Homo sapiens: one gene and its partner. The protein of the gene in region 1 purifies or fractionates together with the protein of each later gene. This does not show direct contact. Each region holds a gene or a part of one and is shown on either strand. Other genes may lie near its edges. The genes, in order: ACAD8 and P4HA2.

What was found.
Region 2: the proteins of ACAD8 (region 1) and P4HA2 fractionate together in Homo sapiens (co-fractionation; one large-scale study listed by BioGRID). This does not show direct contact.

What each region holds. Positions count from the first base shown.
Region 1 is NC_000011.10:134,263,295-134,266,400, forward strand, and holds the end of ACAD8 (isobutyryl-CoA dehydrogenase, mitochondrial), read left to right. Parts: intron 1-41; coding exon of another isoform or gene 42-202; exon of another isoform or gene 203-651; intron 652-1,613; coding exon 1,614-1,666; 3' UTR 1,667-2,561; downstream 2,562-3,106.
Region 2 is NC_000005.10:132,193,113-132,196,930, forward strand, and holds part of P4HA2 (prolyl 4-hydroxylase subunit alpha-2 isoform 2 precursor), read right to left. Parts: intron 2,369-3,818; coding exon 2,300-2,368; intron 1,911-2,299; coding exon 1,814-1,910; intron 1-1,813. UniProt on the Homo sapiens protein: Catalyzes the post-translational formation of 4-hydroxyproline in -Xaa-Pro-Gly- sequences in collagens and other proteins.

The DNA of each region.
Region 1 (3,106 bases):
TGGAAACATTATATAATGGGGCTTCCCTGCCCCTTTCACAGCACCCTTCTCAAACCTCAGCCTGTGCTGGAATCGCCTGGAGGGCATGGGAGCGCAGATTGCGGGCCTCAACCCCAGAGCTTCTGCTCCAGAGGGTCTAGTGTGGGCCTGGGAATTTGTATCTGCAACAAGTCTTCAAGTGAGGCTGCCACAGCTTGTCTGAGAACCACACTTTGAGACCCACCGCTCTGGTGTTAATGTCAGAGTCACAGGCTACCACAGGTTAGACCGCTGCTTTCTTCTGCAAACCTCATTCCAGAAAGATGTTTATGGGCTCAGTCGCCAGTGTTCAAACTGAATTCCCGAGAGTCGTTTTCCTTCCATTACTCTTGGAATTGCTTTCTCACTGAGCTTTATGTGCGTAGGAAACTTCGCCTTCATTCTAACTCTCTCTCCACCCTGCAATAATAAGCAGGAAAACATTTATTGTAGGCCACACCATCACCCACTTACAGAAGAATTGGGGCACTCATCACTGTATCACTTTGTTTCATCATGGACTTTACTGTTGGATAAATCTACAGTTTATGCTTTATTTGAGACGATGTGACTACTGATTCCTCGAGGGGGTTTATATTTCTTTTTGCATTAAAGGCCACTGCTAAAAATGAAGCAAATAATTGATACCCTCCTTTCAGGGAAAATGTTTTCATTCTTTTGTAAGTCAGTTTTCTGATTACCAAAGAAATGTGTATTTATTGTTGAAACCTTATAAAATTAGGAAAAGTAGGCTGGGTGCGGTAGCTTATGTCTATAATCGCCGCACTTTGGGAGGCTGAGGCGGGTGGATCGCGTGAGGCCAGGAGTTCGAGACCAGCTTGGCCAACCCGGTGAAGCCCCGACTGTCTAAAATTATAAAAAGTTAGCTGGGCGTGGTGGTGCATGCCTGGAATCCCAGCTACTCGAGAGGCTGAGGCAGGAAGATCGCTTGAACCCAGGAGGTGGAGGTTGCAGTGAGCTGAGATTGCACCATCGCACTCCAGCCTGGGTGACAGTGAGACTCCATCTAAAAACAATACAAAAAATTAGCCGGGCCTGGTGGGGCCTGGTGGCACATGCTTGTGGTCCCAGCTACTCAGGAGGCTGAGGCAAGAGAATTGCTTGAACCTGGGGGGCGGAGGTTGCAGTGAGCCAAGATCACACCACTGCACTCCAGCCTGGGCGACAGCAAGACTGTCTCAAAAGAAAAGTAAAAGAAAAAAAATCACTCATGTTTCTACATCCAGAATGTTATTTTGGTACATCTCCTTTTAGGCATTTTACTCTGCCTTTGTTGGTACATTTTTAATTTTAATTAGAATTATCCTGTATATACTGTTTTTATTCTGCCTTTTTAAACTTTATATAAGCATTTTTACCATCAGAAGAAGTTTTTAAAAAAGTATTATTTCCTGACATTTTTCAGTACTTTGTAGAGAAGTCTCTGATAATCTCATCTCTCCCAGGCTAAAAGCAATGATTGTAGTTTAAATCTGCAGCTACTCTGAACTAGGCCTGGAGCAGCCTGGTCAGAGCTTTACTAAACTCTCAGACTTTGCTGCTGTGAAATTCTTCCTCCTTCCTCCCTCTTACAGGTAGCAATGAAGTGATGAGGATACTGATCTCTAGAAGCCTGCTTCAGGAGTAGAACCCACACTTGTTCTGGCCTGGTGTTCAGTGCGACTGCAGTCAGTGTTGAGTGGTGCCATGTGGGCCGCTCTATTCCAAAGGAATCATGGATTAGACCCAAGGGCTGAGCTCCTCTAGGGCAGGACCTGCACCCTGTGTGTTGGCACCAGCATCGGGTCTTGGACTGGGGCAGAATCCCCAGTGGAACCGGAAGAGCTGGACTGATGAGAAACATCAGAAGAACACATACTACCTTGTTTTCCTAATGCCAGAAGGGTGACCAGTGAAGATTCACCGTCAAACCATGAAAGTCCTTTCTTGGATCCACTTTATCTTGATTAGTCTGCATTTTACTAGTTCACTGGATCCCTCCTCTAGGGGCCTGGGGACTTTCACTGATGCTCTTCCTGATTCTAGAGCAAAGGTGTGGGAAGGGGAAATGGAGGAATGCCCTCCTGTCTGTGTCGTTCTCTGTGCCACAGCTACAGATGCAGAAGGTTTCTCTGGATAGCACACCTCTGAATGTAAATCATGATAAAATGGATATTTGGAAACTTACTCCTAAGCTGTGATTTAGGGTGTATTTCTACTTCTGGACTGCCTCAATATCAAGGGCTGAGACTTTTGAATTTTGAATATTCGTTGGGTTTCATGTTAAGAAGCCTGTGGTCTAGGAGTGCTATTCAGTGTTTCTTTTCCTGATAAACACTTTGAATATTTTTTTTGTGTTTTTGTTTCCTTTTCTGAAGCTGTTCCTCCTTTTAAATATTTTTAATCACATTGATAAAATCTATCCTTCACCACCTCTGGTTCTACTATAGTTGATTTTTATTTTAAATGTTTAATTGTATTTGATTAAACACTTAACTGGATTTTGGAATAATAAAACTCTCGTCCAATTTGGCTTTTAAAAAGCAGGCTCCTTAAATTATTAATAACTTTGCAAACTAAGCATTGTTTATGATGTATGAAAGTAGAATTAAAGTGAGATTCACAGATGGGACTTCAGGAGACCTTGTTTTGTTTGTTTGTTTGCTGTTTTTTGTTGTTTTTGAGACAGAGTCTCGCTCTGTCGCCCAGGCAGGAGTGCAGTGGCACAATCTCAGCTCACTGCAACTTCTTCCTCTGGGGTTCAAGCGATTCTCCTGCCTCAGCCTCACAAGTAGCCGGGACTACAGGCGCAAGCCACCACGTCCGGCTACTTTTTGTATTTTTAGTAGAGACAGGGTTTCACCATGTTGGCCAGGCTGGTCTCAAACTCCTAGCCTCAAGTGATCTGCCCACCTCGGCCTCCCAAAGTGCTGGGATTACAAGTGTGAGCCACTGTGCCCAGCCAGGGGAGCTCTGTTATAACTTACTATGTTACTCCATCCCCTCATCCCTATTGAAAAGAATACGCAAGACATTAACTACAAGCCAATGTTTAGAGAGAAGAGAATATGTGTCTGTAACAACAACA
Region 2 (3,818 bases), on another chromosome or scaffold:
ATTGGTCAGTTTAGTAGCCTGAATGAATGACTCCTTCATGATGACCCCCTGCACTGTGCCCTGGAATCAGACACAAATAAGACAAGACATGATCTCAGGCCTCAATTTGCTGAAGAATTGGTAAGGAAGACACATGTAAACAGATAATTGTATGAAATTCTGCCAGTGGGACAAGATACATGTGTGCAGGTTGCCATGGGAATAGCACCCAAGGGCATCTAATCATGCCCTTTCATGCCCATGACCTTTGATGCCCTTTGGCTCTATTCCCATGGCAACCTGCACACATGTTTCTTGCTCTTAGAGGGAAGAGGAAATCCTAGGGCTAGAATATAAAGCTACATAGAAGTTATCCTGGGAAGAAGATGGGCATACCCAGATGGTTCTCTCACCAAGAGGGTCCCAGGAGTGACAACAGGATGAGAAAGTAATCAAGGCAGAAGCCACCCTGACGTGTGTTGGGGACTCAAGAGGCCTAATATTACTGGGAGGTGGCAGGTAGAAACTGAGAGGTAGGGTGTGAGGATGAGGAAGACTGTCAGCATTGCAGAGGGCTTGGACATTAACCTCAGGAGCCGTGGACCAGCAGATCCAGTCTGTATGCCATGGGCACAAGAGCAACAGAGCTGCTGCCAGCACTATCACCCCACGCCATATCTTCAAACACACAGGAACCATGATTCTGTTCCTCACAGACTCTCTCATAATGAATAAAAATTTTATTTCAATGCACTACTGAAGTCACAGAGCTTTTAAAATATAAAGTAATAACATGTACTTCATTGAAAAAAATAAAATTGTCGCAAGGCTTATAATGATAAATAGCACTCCTCCTAAGCCTCTCCTTCCCATCCCTAATCTCCACTCCCAGGGAACATTAAACTCCTCTAGCTGTTTCTTCTGATATTTAACCTCATTTTTCTAGATAAGATGCTTATAGTTCTATTCCTTGACTTTCAACTTTGGAATTCTTTTATTCTACCCCTAAAACACAAACTCATCCCCTCCCACCTTTCCAGTACAGGTAAATCATAAGTTTTAGTTAAAGTAATACTCAGTGTGTACATAATTATATCATGTGTTACACCTGAGCCATCTAGTAGATTATACTTACATTTCCTTTCTTGTACAACTTTTTTTCCCCTGAATTCAGCAACTGCCTTGTTTTCTTTTCCATTTGCTTAATTATCTGCAAACCTATCACTATTTATCTTCAAAACTCTCCAAGGGGGCTACACACTCATCTCCTTACAAACACTTCCTGTCATATCCTGGTTTGAGCCTCTCCGAGGCTCACCACAACTGCTCCCAGGATAAGGCTCAAGCTTGAGCCTCTGCAGTTTGGTCCCAGCCTCCAGCCTCATCTTCTGGCCCCTGTGCCACAGGCCTCCCTTTCTTCAAGTGACAAGGGAGCCAGCCCCCACACCCGTATGCTGGTTTTAGCCTGTGCCTCCATCCATATGGGCCTTGTTTGCCTGAGACACTCTTTCCCCTCACTGCTTCCAGCTCTCCACTCTGCTCCCTCAGAAGCCTTGCCAGAGGGTCCTGGACCTATGGTGCTTATGCAGCTATTCGTCCTCAGGCCTTCTTCAGCTTCCTGTGTATCTCTGAGTGTTTCCAACCAGCTGCCTTGGCATTTACCAGCTGCATGGACATTACATGGCTGGATGGTAATAACAGCAGAAAAAAACCTAAGAAGGGAGACAGTCTCAGCAAATTTGGCAGCAGTTGCCTCCCAGCTCAGAATCTAAGGCCAATAAGCAAAGCCCAAGCTGAGGCCACCAACACCAACACTACCCCTTAAGACACTCACCCCACTTGCAGCCCACAAGCACAGGGCAGGCAGCATGTCTTGTTCGGTAGTCACCTTCCCCGCTCCGCAAGAGGTTGTACCAGAACACAGCTGTACCCTGGGAAAGAGATGGCCTTTCAGAACACATTCTTAAGAGACTGTGCTCAGGGACCTGACTGCAAGCATCACAGAAGCTCTGCCCTGAGCAGAAACACCCTCATTTTCCCATGGACAGGGGATAGGGCTCTGGGACTCCAGCAACAGAGACATTTCCCAGAAAGCACCTACCTTTCTGAGGTAGAAGTCTGGGAACTCACCCGCCCCTGAAGGGACTTCCCTCCCTGTCCTTTCTTCACAGGGAGAAGCTGGGCTACCAGGTCAGACCCCAGGTGGGCTAAGGCACATCACAGTGACAATCAGGCAGGCCAGGTAATGGTACTGGGGGACATGGACAAAGTAAAGTCTGAGCCTTGCTTCAACCTCTGACCCACAAGAATCAGAACTTACCTTCTTAGGCCAAATTGCAGCCCCCAGATCAGGGAAGACGGTGGCACCACCAGCTTCTACATCACTCATCTGGAAATATAAGACATAGAGCTTGACCCTCCTACCCAAGGCTCTCAGAGCAATTGAGCCACAAAGGACATGACAAGGTATATAGATTGCCCTCCTCTCAGCATGAGTGACACTACTTGGTGTCTGCTCCATGGCCAGCCCTTTAGCCAAGAAAGGCTCTTCCCATGCCTACTTAACCAGTGTGATTCATTAGAACAGTCTCCATGTCATGAGTGTTCAAGAGTTGAGGCCCACAGGAGACCCACATCCGGGCTGTCCCTGGATGAAAATAATCTGAGTCTGTACTCAGAAAATGCCTGTTCTGACCCCACCCTTTGAATCCCCATCTAGCCTTGGCCTTGCCTAAGCCACTGTACTCTGCAAAGTGCCCTGACCAGGAGCTCTGTACTGTTTCCAACACCATGTGCAGTCCCCACTGCAGCTCTGTTTCTCTGGCTCTAGTAGTTTGCTGCTCTAGTCAGACCTTCACCTTCCCAGAGTAGCCACCCTTCCTGGGGCCAACTGAGTGGAAGGGTGGGGCACTGTGTCTCTAGAGGCCCTGCTTTCTCCTATGGTAAGGCCTTAAACTACATTGAACACAAGTTCCACACTAGCAAGGCTGTACTCATGCCCACAGAGCATGCCTTGACTCATGGCCAAAGCACTACTTCTTTCCCATCTGGCTCTCTTACTTTTTTTGTCCATAATTTAATAAAAATTGGAGGTAAAAAATATTTCCACAGGACACATACCAGACTCACTGAAGGGTACTTGACAGACATATGGTAAATGAATAAGACAAAAGCTCTGATGGCTTCTCACAGCCCTGTGGATCAAACTCAGATTCTTTTCTAGAACCCCAAGGCCCTGTCAGTCTCACTAGCCTCTCTCCAGACACACCAGCCTTTTTCTACCTTTCCAACATCCCAAGTTCCTTTTCTCTTACAGGACTACATACACTCTCTCTTCTGCCAGAAACCATGTTCTACCAGCTAATTTCCACTCAACTTTTAAGTCTCAACTGATATGTTACTTCCAAAGAGAGGCCTCCACTGAACCCCAAGCCTGGGGTTCACAGCACCTGTCTCCATAACTACATAATAATCTCTCTGATGTTTAGGCTGGGCATGGTGGCTCACGCCTGTAATGCCAGCACTTTGGGAGGCCAAGGCGGGTGGATCACTTGAGGTCAGGAGCTTGAGACCAGTCTGGCCAAGATGGTGAAACCTCATCTCTACTAAAAATACAAAAATTAGCTGGGCATGGTGGTGCACGCCTATAATCCCAGCTACTTGGGAGGCTGAGGCAGGAGAATCGCTTGAACCTGGGAGGCAGAGTTTGCAGTAAGCTGAGATAGCGCCACTGCACTCCAGCCTGGGCAACAGAGGGAGAGTCTGTCTCAAAAAAAAAAAAAAAAAAAGATAAAGAAGAATCTCTCTGATGTTTAAAATAAGTCTCTCATATTGGACCT